Homo sapiens: one gene and its partner. The protein of the gene in region 1 interacts with the protein of each later gene in a biochemical or structural test. Each region holds a gene or a part of one and is shown on either strand. Other genes may lie near its edges.

Region 1 (7,218 bases):
TGTGAGTACTGTGAATTGAAGCTTTAAAAACTTTAAAGATGTGGCCGATGTTATGAAGAGCAATATCCAGGGGTGCTGGAACTTGCACGTTGTAGTTTTACTTTTTAAAAATGAGATGGCATATGCAGAGGAAGTTTCTTATTGGAGAAAGTGAATATAATCCCTATTAACTGCCACCCCCCCCACCAATCTATATTTCCTAATGCTGGATCAACTAGTGATAATATCACAACATTACTCTGTCTCAGAAAAAAATGTCACAGGTTCATGACTGAAAGATCACAAAAATTGGTAGCGTTCATCAGAAGTGGTATCTCAATTTTAAAGTGCTTTTCAGTCATTCCATCTGGTTCCCAGAAAGGAAGCTTTGGCATCTTTGATATATGGTGCAAACTCAGCTCTGTTCTTCAGCTGTGAATGGCCATTTGTTATTCTGTGTGGCCACTCGGATGGTCCTTTAAAAATAAACTTCCGAACATTGAAGCAGAGACTTCTAAGGCTTCTCCAGCTCTTCAGCTCTACAAGAGACACTAGAAGAGTGTTATGCGATGATGAGACCTTCAGGTTCTGCAGAGCAGGCTGAGCAGCTCTGGCTATTGAGGACCACCCTGAGGAATAAGGGTGGTCCTCACCCTACCCAGCTGCTCCTCACCCTACCCAGCTGCTCCATGACTGAAAAGTTTGGAAAGATTTTAATTTTTATAACTCAGATCATATAATCATTGATCATCTGCAGTTTAAGCTGGACACAGCCCTGAGGCAATGCAGATAGATGAATGTACTTTGTCCCTTTCCTCAAGGAGTACCAGGTCAGCATTATTGGTAAACAGATCGTCACAACTTGGCAGTTTATGTGCAATATTCAGAGCAAGTTCCTGGTTACAGAAGTATCTGAGTATCTGCATTAGGAGGGTCCTTGTTTTAAAATTTCTTAAAGAAGCCAAATAGGCCAGTCGTGGTGGCTCACGCCTGTGATCACTTTGGGAGTCCCAGGCAGGCTGATTGCTTGAGCTCAGGAGTTTGAGACCAGCCTGGGCAACATGGCAAAACCCTGTCCCTACAAGAAATTTTAAACAAAATTAGCTGGGCATGGTGGCTCACGCCTGTCATCTCAACTACTCAGGAGGCTGAGAGGTGAAAGGATAGTTTGAGCCAGTGATGTTGACACTGCAGTTAGCCAAGATCGTGCCACTGCATTCCAGCCTAGGAAACAGCTAGACCCTGTCTCGAGAGAAAAAAAAAAAAGCCAGCCGGGCGTGGTGGCTCACGCCTGTAATCCCAGCACTTTGGGAGGTCGAGGTGAGTGGATACGAGGTCAGGAGTTCGAGACCAGCCTGGACAATATGGTGAACCCTTGTCTCTACTAAAAATACAAAAAAACTAGCCAAGGGTGGTGGCGCCTGCCTGTAATCCCAGCTACTCGGGAGGCTGAGGCAGGAGAATCGTTTGAACCCAGGAGTCGGAGGTTGCAGTGAGCCGAGATTGTGCCACTGCACTCCATCCTGGGCAGTACAGGGAGACTCCGTCTCAAAAAAAAAAGAAAAGAAAAGAAAAAAAAGCCAAATAATTACCCCATTTAATAATTTTTAGTTATTTAGATATTAGACTTCTTTAAGTGGAACTTGTTTCTGTCTGGTGGCTGGGGAGAGGGACAGCATATGCTAATTGTTTCTCTGTACAGTATTGTTCGTGGATTTACTCTAATCCCACTTTCCTCACCTGCTTGTGATTAAGACGGGTGTCAGGGGTAGGGTGGAGTGAATTGAAGCCACTTGGCCAGAAAAGGGATTTATTTAACTCATGGCAGTGACATCTTAACATTGTTTTCTTCTTTCCGTCATATATTTGTTCAGCAGTAATTTATTAAGCACTGATGTAGGTGCTGGGGCATCTAAGAATTAATTTGGTTGGCCCATTGCCTTCAATAGTTTGGTTCATGTGGAAATACTTGCCATCTGGTGACTAACTATATAACTTACTGCTTTAGGTTATGACTGAGATAACTCCTTAGTTATCTTTTCTGATAATCAGGGAATGAGTGGTAATTTTTTGCTTCTGGTAGTTTTGGAGACTTCATTGAAGGTTTGACTTGATAGTCACTTTATTAAACATTGTCTTTAGCTCTGTGCACTATCTCTTCAAAATTATCTTTTGCATTACCTCTGAGAACTTTGCAACCTGGAATTGCCTTCCTAGTTATTTTATCACATCCTTCAATTTTACTTTTTTAACACTCCTAAATTGTATCACCATCTGAAATTATTTGTGTATGGTACGTCTCCACAATACTATCCGGTTTCCTGAAAGCAGAGACCTTATCTGTTTTCCTCACTGTTGTATCCCCAACATCTAGAACGGCTTGGCAGGAGTGGATGTTGAGTGAAAATGTGTGAGTATAAGGTCACCAGGACTCACTGTGTGACGATGGTAGGCTCGTTTCCTCACCAGCAAAATGGGGATAATATATTGTTGCGACGCATAAAGGAAATGCTATATGTGAGGGCTGGGCACCTAGTCTTGTTGCTTAGTAAGTGTTTCCTTCCCCTTTGCTGTATCTCCCTTTGTTGAATGAACCAGAAAGGCTTTTATGGCCCCGCAGAATGGCTCTGTTCTTTCTCATGGCTACCAGGATCATGAAGCCTGTACAGTGATTGCACAGAGCTTTAGCCTGCACAAGGACAGGAGCAGCACGGAGCCTTTTCTCTTTATTCAAGTCCCTACATTCCTGTGGTCTGATGTCGTCTCTTCATAACTCTCCAGTTTCCTTCAGGCTGTGCCTCTGTGTTGTATCCACGTTTACTTGGCTGTTTTTCATACATTCTGTGCTTTGCATCAGAAGGTTCTCAGCAATTTCAAATGAATTGGTCTTAGAGTTTACAAGGCAAAGGAGAACATTGAATACAGCGTTTTCTCCCTCATTGTGATTATTCTGGGCCCACACATGTAAATTCTGTTTATTTGACTAAATTATTACTAGGTTGTTTTTTTTTTTTTAATATGAGATGGAGTCACTCTGTCGCCCGGGCTGGAGTGCAGTGGCGTGATCTTTGCTCACTGCAACCTCCGCCTCCTGGGTTCAAGCGATGCTTTTGCGTCAGCCTCCCGAGTAGCTGGGATTACAGGCGCCTGCCACTACACCCAGCTAATTTTTTGTATATTTTAGTAGATACAGTGTTTCGGCATGTTGGCCAGGCTGATCTCGAACTCCTGACCTTGTGATTCACCTGCCTCGGCCTCCCAAAGTTCTGGGATTACAGGCATGAGCCACCGTGCACAACAGCCAGTTTTGACTCAATGGGCAAAATGAAAATTTAGGTCCATTGCCCACTTTATACAATGCTGTTGAATTAATATGGGTGACAGAAAAATGGCTTTCATTCATTGACGTTGGAATTTGTTTTTTAAAAAACTTAGAAAATGATCTGTTTACTCATTCATTCTGCAAATAATTACTGAGTGCTTTTCACATGCCAGGTGTTGATAAGTACAAGTACAAGCCTAGCAGTAGTGTGAAGATTTTCTCCAGACACGACTGCTGAAGTTAGAGAATAGATGCAAGGGGCTGGCTGGTGCTCAGGGTGTTGGGGGGTTAAAAAGGGTGGACACCTAGAGAGATAACAGCTTCTGCAAAGACCACGGGGCACTAGTGGACATTGGCATATTTGGGGAACAGCATAGAGAGTACTTTGACATGGTTGGAGTGTCGTGTGCTTAAGGGAAGAAATAATCTGAGAAATGAGAGGTAAGCTGAAAAACTAAGCCTTGACCAGATGCAGAAGAGTGTATAAGCCACGTTTGAAAGTCTTTTTCCTGAGAACAGTTGAAGGGTTTTAAGTGGGAAAGTCACTTGTTCAGATTGGATTTTTGAAAGACGATTCTGGTGTGTTGTGGAAACTGGCTGGGACATTGCACGTCAGACCAGATGATACTGTAGTAATCTCAGGTCATAGTGGCCTGAACTGACAACAGAGTTGGGGACAAATGAATGAGTTCCAGAGGCATTTAGGAAGATTTTGGAGGAGTTGGTCATTGGGTATGAGAAGATGGGGTTGGAGAAATGTAAAATAACACCTGTGTCTCTGCCTGGCTTCTTGTGGGAATGGTGCCACCATTCGTTGAGTTAGGGTGCATTTAGATGAGGCACAGGTGTGGGGTTGAGATTATGAGTTCAGTTTTGGAATCATTGAATCCTGAGATATCCAGGTGAAAGGCTGGAGTAATTACAGGTCCGGTCTGGAGATAAAGACTTAAGAGTTACCAGTAGTTCCAAATTTACCAAATTTTTTTTTGTTCTTTTTGAGACGGAGTCTTGCTCGCCAGGCTGGAGTGCAGTGGCACAATCTTGGCTCACTGAAACCTCTGCCTCCCGGGTTCAAGCGATTCTCCTGTCTCAGCCTCCCGAGTAGCTGGGATTACAGGCATGTGCCACCACGGCCAGCTAATTTTTGTATTTTTAGTAGAGACGAGGTTTCACCATGTTGGCCAAAATGGTCTTGTTCTCTTTACCTTGTGATCCACCCACCTCGGCCTCCCAAAGTGCTGGGATTACAGGTGTGAGCCACCACACCTGGCAAGATTTTCCTTTTTAAGTTGATTTCTTTGGTAAGGTGTCCAAAGATGGCATACCTGTACTATGCAGTGCAAGGTGCTGTTCAGTGCTATTAAGGGAATACTGTACTATTTTATAAAGATAAGGCCATATACTCTCATTACCATAATGATTATTAGAAGTACCAAAGGAGTTTGAGGGAGGAGAGACACTGATTTTAACTGTGTTGATCAGAGAAAGCTTTGTTGAGGACTTTGTATTTGAGTGGAACCCTACAGATTGGGCAGAATGGTGGTGAGTAGACTCATGGCAGGCTGTATTAGCTAGAGTAAGGTGGAGGAGGACTAGGTGTGTCCAGGGAGGATTGAGGGGAGGTTGCACACGTGTACAGGAGCTGAGTGCCTGCTGAGTAGTTTGTATTGCTATGGTAGACGGTGGGGACCTGTTGAAAATTTGATGGCAGTGCAGTGAGAATTTTGATATGGCAGTGGTGCAGAGGAGGACTTGGTGGGGGGGCACTGATTAAAGGAAGAATTGAGAGACAGGCAGGCCAATTAGGGGATAAAAGGACTGTTATGAAAGGTCCTGCTATAAGGCTATGGCCATGCAACTAGGGACCAGGTTTTTAAGGTGAATGATGGGAATCTTCAACCAAAAGGAAGATGACGCATTCCAGGTCAGACTTACTGAATTGGAGAATTTGGTGGGACTTGGCAATGGAACTGGTTAGCAGGCAGCTGGCAGTGTGGATCTGCAGCTTGAGAAAGAGGTCAGAAGTGGAGATAAAGACTTGGAAGGCTTCCACGTGGAAGTGATAGTCGAAGGTAAGGGAGAGGATGAGGTCACCATGGGACTGTAAAGAATAGAAAAAAGAACTGAGAATGAGACCTTGGGGACGGGAAGAGAAAGAGGACCTGGGAAAGGATAAAAAGAACGGTGGCTCTGAAGGACAGTCATTCCTCATCACAGAAGATGAGGGAAGAACTGTTCGATCACAGGTGTGGGCAGCAGTTCAAATGCTGCACAGGAAGAAAAGTATTTGGTTATGGCAACATTCCCGAACCTGGTGTTGGGAGGTGTTCCAGTGTTGGTATGGGAATCATTCGATGGCGCCAGCACCGCCCAGTAGGAACAGAATGCAAGCCACGTGTGTTATTTTAAATTTTCCAGGAGTCACATTAAAAAAGTAAACAGTCCAGGCACGGTGGCTCACACCTGTAATCCCAGCACTTTGGGAGGCCGAGGTGAGCGGATCACAAGGTCAGGAGATCGAGACCATCCTGGCCAACATGGTGAAACCCCGTCTCTACTAAAAATACAAAAATTAGCCGGGCGTGGTGGCGGATGCCTGTAATCCCAACTACTTGGGAGGCTGATGCAGGAGAATTGCTTGAACCTGGGAGGCTGAGGTTGCAGTGAGCCGAGATCACGCCACTGAACTCCAGCCTGGGTGACAGAACAAGACTCCATCTCAAAAAAAAAAAAAAGTTAAAAATAAAAAGAAATAAGTGAAATTAATTTCAGTAATATCGACTTTATTTATGTAAAATATTGTTAATTCAACATATTATTGATTTTAAAATGTTAACGCAACATTTTACGTTTTTTTTGTACCAAGACTTTGAAACCTGGTGTGTATCTTAGGCTTACAACACATTTCAGTTCAAACATAAAATTTTCATTGGAAATACTTGATTTGCTTTTAGATTTCATAAAACTTACTACTTTTTCATGGAAAAGTAGGTTCACATACCCACGTTTTTCCAAACATAAAAAAGTTTTCCAGCAATGGAAATGTCAGTTTTTAAATTTAAATTAATTAAAATACAGTTAAAAATTCAGTTTGAGTGGCACTAGTCTCATTGCAAGTGCACAGTAGCCACGTGCGGCTACTCTGTTGGACAGCACAGGGAGGGTTATGCGAAGTAAAATAGGCTACTGTACAGCGGATGTGCACTCTGAAAATACCCAAAATGGTTTAGCACCATCGCAAAGCATTTCACAGGATTAGTGTTTCTTAGAATACATGTTGGCTTATCCTAGTGGAATTTTTAGAATTTAGAAGGGTCAAATCTCTAATTTTGAATGTGAGGAGACAAACTTTTTATGAAAATACACAGATTCCAAAATTTGAAATAGTGTTTGGGCTACAGTCAGCAGAATGGTACATTGGTAGAAGTTCCTAAACATACCGGTTTGTGCCATGTTTCTGAAATGCTTGGTGCAGAGGCTTACACTTAAAAACAGATCCAGCAGGAGGGGTGGGAGCGTTCCTGTTACTGTTTGTGAGTTTCTTTTGCACTCCCTGGAGTCAGTGAGGTGGTGGCTTCAGGTGGGGGGATGAAGTTAGGATTGCTTTAAGTCAGTGTCCCAGCGTCCCTGTGTGGTGGAGGTGTGAGGTGGGAGAGGGTGCCACCAGGCTAATTATGTTGTGCTTGTCTCTCACTTTTCTTATCTCACTTTTCTCCGTTTAGCCCCGTTTAGTCATTGTGTACTTTTTGCCGACCTGGGCCAATTGAACGCATATTTACTAAATATGGGTGGGTTTTTTCAGTTTATAAAAAGCAGGTTCAAAGATTTTCATTTAATTATCTCATTGATTGAGACTGCTTTGCAGCTGTTAACTAGACCATCTAAGTGATAACCAGTAAAGATAGAAAGGATCTTGA
Region 2 (6,114 bases), on another chromosome or scaffold:
CTGAAACTGGCCTGCCAACTTGCAACTTCTGGTATTAGTCCAACAACTTTAATTATAAAATGAAGAGCTATACCTGAAATTATGCAGTTAAAGAGGGTTGAGAGCTGATTTCCAAAATCTTAGTCCAGTGTTTTCTTGCATCGCATACCGGGGCTGTTTATCCACTTTTGGGCCTGTAAAGATTCCTCCAGTTCATTTTGGTTCCTTTTTTTCCTACATATTCTTAATTCTTTCACCTCCTGGCAAAGTTTGGAAGCCTAGCGTCGTCTCCCCATTTTCACTCCACTCACTGTCTTTTATTTAAGAAGGTGAAAAATGGGTGGGGTAGAGGGGAGGTAGGCAGTCTTTGAAAAACCCGAGCTCCAGCCACATGCCCAGCACTGGAAACATTCTATGCATTGTCTCATTTAATGCTCCAACAGTTCTACTTTCTCCTTTCACACTGGAGGAAACTGAGATTTAGAAGCATCAAGGAACTTGCTCAGAGTGTCACATAATCAAGGTTTGAACCCAGGACTTCATGACTAAAGCTTAAGTGCCTTCCACTGTATCACATGGGTCTCGTTCCCTAGTCTGAAGAGCTGTAATGATGACCACACAAGAGAAAGTTTAAGAGCAAAGCTTTTCTTTTTATTGCAGTTATTAGTGAAAGTTATACTTCAAACTGAAGCTAAGCAACACTAAAACCATTAATATTTTTAAAATCAAGGATTAAAAACAAATACAACATAGAACTCTCCAGTAGGCAGAATGGCAGAAAAAAGAGTAGTGGTTCTGTCACAGAACATTTCGTGACAGTTTGGCTCAGAAAGAATCATGACAATTTCTTTTGTTGTTGTTGTTATTTGCCTCCCAACAGGAAACAATGACACTTTCTTTAACACAAAATATTATATGAGCTGCTTAAAAACCAGCTTCTTCAAGCTTCTCAGTCTCACTCATAACTTGTTCGTAGTATAATAATTTCTGTGGGGAAGATAGTTTAACTGAAGTATAATATTTTTTGTGGGGAAGATAGTTTAACTGAAAAAGAAAATATATTACCAAATTTTAAATACTGAAAACAAGGACTTTTGTTCAAAAACTTTATTTGCCTTCTGCTCATTATAATTACATATAATCTTCAAGGAGTTTAAATGACAACCAAATCCAAGGCCTGGCCCCCAAGAACACAGTGATAGGATTCAGCATTTGGTGTTTCTAATTATACAATGACTACATATATATCATAGACTTGCTCTCATCCATTCTCCACCATAAAGTTTCAATTTCCTCTTAAAATATGGCAGTCAAGTTTAGTCTCATTCAAAATCTTATCTGGTCCTACAGCATATTACAGACTTAGACTCACTCTTCTGTTTTAATTGATGTTACTGTGTAGCCGAAGATTTTAAAAAAAGATTTATAGATATACACTTGAAATTCTGCAGTCTTGAAATACTACAATAAATTTTTCTTACTTATGAAAAGCCAACAACAACAAAAAAGGCCAGGCCAGGCATAAGACAGAGGGGAAGGGAAGATGAGGAGGGAGGTTTGAGAGTCCCATCATTTTGCCTTGCTGAAACTGGGTTTCAGTAGAAATATTTGGCAAGAATAGTGTGGAAAAGGAGGATGGAGAAAGAGGTTACTCTGATTTTATGTAATAATTCAGTTTCAAAACATACTGATATCAACCTCCAAAAATAGTAGTTCACATCTGCAATACAAATAGGCACACACGGTAAAGATGGTTAAAAAGTAGAATTTAAAAGGCTATTTGTCCATCTTCAGGACATTTTGCAGGCGGCCCCACCCTCCCCACATGTCCTGTATTTACATTTTACTCTTCAGAAAAGCCCCTTTTAAAAGAATGCTATTTCTTCCTCCATTACTTAGGGTTTTTTTTGTTTTGTATTGTTTTGTTTTGTTTTGTTTTTAGCAGCAATTATCTAGTGGGAGCAGTTAGCTACGCTTTAGGGGTGTATGTTTGTATGTGCATTGTGTATAACAGAAGTGTTCTCTAGAGTGAGCAGTCAGATTACACTGCAATGGTCATATTACCATTGAGTCCCCCAAACACTAAAGAAAGACATTATTTTTTTCTATATAAACTTAATACGCAGAGTTATAAACATAAAATATTGATATAGACACACATACGCACACCACTGCTTCCCAAAGCCTATGAATGCATCCACGTACTAGTCCACAAGAATGATCTTTATTCACAAGATATAGGAATACTTTTATGGGTCCATAACTGAAAAGAGACATTAAAGCTACACATTACAGCAAAAATAGTTTAAAATTATTCCTGATATATCAGCGTTAGCTATCTCACTGCACAAGGTGGATTTTTTGTTCATTTTTCATTTTTCAAACATGAATCTCCCCAACTTTTCATCTTCAGTACTTGAAATTCTCATTGAAATTAATGCAGATGCCAGCTTTGTTAGCAATGAGTTGGAAAAGCCCAACTGCCTGCAACAAGGGGAGGTTGGCATCTGTGGAGATAAAAGTAAATGTTGAATGCGTCCATACCCTGTGTACCTAAAATGCATCCTTTTTTCTTTTTTTAAAAAAAATCTTGTCTGTTGCAACAAAGAATTGTTTACACTCCCTGCAGTGGTGTGCCCTTTGTAATTTCCTAGAAACAGAATCTCTTCCCCCCATGGAAATGCATAAGCCTGTTGAAATGTAAGGACCTGCCACGATCTATAAAGGTAACTGCATCAGACACCTGATATGACCTGCAGGTGCTCAGAATTGAATTCACATGAAGCAGAAACTTTCACTATATTTTAACCTTTATAGGTACATGATGATTGGAATTTTTAAAGTAAAGCAAAGTTAAATTCTGCAAAGACATGAGTGAAATAAGCACACTTTCTTTCTTAAAATCTAACCCTCTTCTTCAAAGAAAGGTACCAAAAATCGGCCAAGAAACAGGGAATAACCATCTAGTTGTACAATAGCCTCTGATGCTAACATGTAGCAAAAGTGCCTGAAGGCAAAGGCGAAGTTAATTTCTAAGTATTTGTATTTTATTATTATTATTTTTTTTTTTATTGAGACAGAGCTTCGCTTTGTTGCCCAGGCTGGAGTGCAGTGGCACAATCTTGGCTCACTGCAACCTCTGCCACCTGGGTCCAAGCAATTCTCCCACCTTAGCCTCCCGAGTAGCTGGGATTACAGGCACCCTCCATCGTGCCCAGCTAATTTTTGTATCTTTAGTAGAGACGGGGTTTTGCCATGTTGGCCAGGCTGGTCTCGAACTCCTGACCTCAAGTGATCCACCTACCTCGGCCTCCCAAAGTGCTGGGATTACAGGCATGAGCCACCGCACCCAGTCAATTTCTAAGTATTTGATGGTTTTCACCACATTAATCTAACTCAAAACTGCAGCTGCCATAGCACCACTAAAATCATTTGGTTTTTGAAAAGTTATGCTTTTGCCAAGGATTATTATAAAGAAAAATTCAGCCTGTGTGCTGGATATCTTGCAGGGAAGAAACAACAGGATATGTTTGTAAGTGAACACTACACCATGATAAGGCCTATGTTTCTCTTATTCCTATTTCATAAAATGATCTACAACAAAGACATTTTCACAGAGGCAAACTGGAAAGGAATCCTTCACACAACACTCTTCTATTATCTTGAACGTCTGAATAGCTTTTCCTTTGGAGAACTCAAATGCTTCCGCAAACATTATCTTATTCTTACAACAATTTAGTGATCATGCCTATAATCCCAGCACTTTGGGTGGCTGAGGCAGGAGGACTGCTTGAGCTCAGGAGTTAGAGATCAGCCTTGGCAACATGTGAGACCCCATCTCTGCAATAAAAGAAAATAATTAGCTGGGTGTGGTGGCATGTACCTCTAGTCCCAGCTACTTGGGAGGCTGAAGCAGGAGGATAGTTTGGGCCCAGGAGTTGGAGGCTGTAGTGAGCTATGATCACACTACTGTAGTTCAGCCTGGGCAACAGAGTGAGACCCTGACTCAGAACAAAAGAACTCCAACAATTTAGTGAGGTAGGTGAGGACAGGTATTACCACTCTTATTTACAAGGGGAAACTAGGCACACAGAGATTAAACGAATTGCCTAAGGACACGGAGCAAATCAGTGGGAGACCTATTACTAAATTCCAAGTCTCTGGCTCATATTCTAGAGCCCTTTCTACTCTCAAAGGCAATAAATTCTCAATAGGCTTTTTCCATTTGTGATCTTTCAAAAGTTCCTCCATTAAAGAACACCTTAAGCCTTCTCTCTTATAGCCCACGCTTGACTAGGAACTGGGATGAGTTTTAAACTATTTTTACACAATATTTTGCACATATCAAGAAGGCAGATGTGAGACATAAGCTGTATAATAAAGTCAGAATAAATACATAAATTAAGAGAAATGAACAGGTTAAGTATTAATTCATTCAATATAATTTTTTACATATTTTAGAAGCCATGTATCAGAATAAAAGTCATAACATTTTAAAGTTTAAATCAGAGTCCAATTTATCAAAACCATAAGCTATATTAATTTTCTTTAAGAATATGAGGATCTCTGTTGGTTGGCAGAAGGTTAGAATATTACTTTCAAGAATAATTCTTATTTATTTATTTATTTTAAAGATTGGGGTCTTGCTGTATTGCCCAGGCTTGCTTTAAACTCCTGGGCTCAACTATCCTCCTGCCTCATCCTCCTGAGAAGTTCGGACTACAGGTGCAAACCACCACATCTGGCTAATATCAACAATAATATTATCACTGTGCCATAATACATCATATTCCTGATATATACTCTGTTCACATTAGCATTCTATAGCCAGCAAAAAATTCCATGGCTAGAGATAATACTTGCAACATTAATACTTTCAATCTTAATTCTCACTTAACTGAGTTAGAATTTCTCTTCATATATGTTAAAGTTACATTGTAATAATCATCATTCTATCTATTTTTGTTTTATCCTTCCCCTCTTTTATTTTTAACAGTGTGTGTGTTTGTGTGTGAGTGTGTGTGATGGGGAAAAAAGAACAATTGTGTGATTCACAAATGGCATAAAACACTGATTGTATTACAAATAAGAATGGTGGCACTCTAGTAAGTAAGATAATGGAATGTCAAAGGAAACAAACTTTAGAATACAAACATGGAAAACATGCTAAAATATTAATCAAGCTATAGCTTGTGGCATGTGATTCTTCTTTCCCAAGTATTTTGAGAGTGTCATTTACCCCCAGTAGAATTCTATATCAACTGCCTCTAAGTCCTTTTCCTATTCCTTCTTTTTTTTTTTTTTGAGACGGAGTCTCACTCTGCCACCCAGGCTGGAGTGCAATGGTGGGATCTCGGCTCACTGCAACCTCCGCCTCCTGGGTTCCAGACTACCTTGTCTGGAAAGGCCCTGCTTGGTGTTTTCTATTTAAAGGGGAAAACCAAACATGTTATGTTGATAGCAATGCCTGGCTCTATTAAAGATAAATCCTTCATTTAATTTCCTTATTGTAATTCAGACTAGCAGGATTCTCCTGCCTCAGCCTCAGGCGCCTGCCACCACGCCTAGCTAATTTTGTATTTTTAGTAGAGACAGGGTTTCACCATATTGGCCACGCTGGTCTCAAACTCCTGACCTTGTGATCCACCTGCCTTGGCCTCCCAAAGTGCTGGGATTGCAGGCATGAGCCACTGCTCCCGGCCTATTCTTTCTTTTTTAAAGAGGGAATGGGGTTGGACCCTGGGCTAAGAAATGAGAAAGCTCCTGGAAAACCTTAATTGCAATTAATTACTATAGAAGATCAAGTCTGTTGCTAGCAAAACCAAAGCTTCCTTTTGTTAAACTCCCTGGGATCAAACTGTATCCATGAACTGGGTCGGACTGTCTATGCCAAAATTCTTTCTTCATTACAAACTAACCAGTGTTTTTACCAAATCCCACACCAAAACCATTTTCTTTACAGGAAAGACTACATTGTCTGGAAAGGCCCTGCTTGGTGTTTTCTATTTAAAGGGGAAAACCAAAGACACTATGTTGATAGCAATGCCTGGCCCTATTTAAGGATAAAGACTTCATTTAATTTCTTTACTGTAATTCAGAAGCAACTTCCAAGACTTCTCTAAGTTACTGAGAATA

Evidence for each region.
Region 2: the proteins of TNRC6B (region 1) and AGO3 form a complex in vitro, tested with the Homo sapiens proteins (one study listed by BioGRID).

The regions. Positions count from the first base shown.
Region 1 is NC_000022.11:40,180,716-40,187,933, forward strand, and holds part of TNRC6B (trinucleotide repeat-containing gene 6B protein), read left to right. Parts: intron 1-7,218.
Region 2 is NC_000001.11:36,066,995-36,073,108, reverse strand, and holds the end of AGO3 (protein argonaute-3), read right to left. Parts: 3' UTR 609-6,114; downstream 1-608.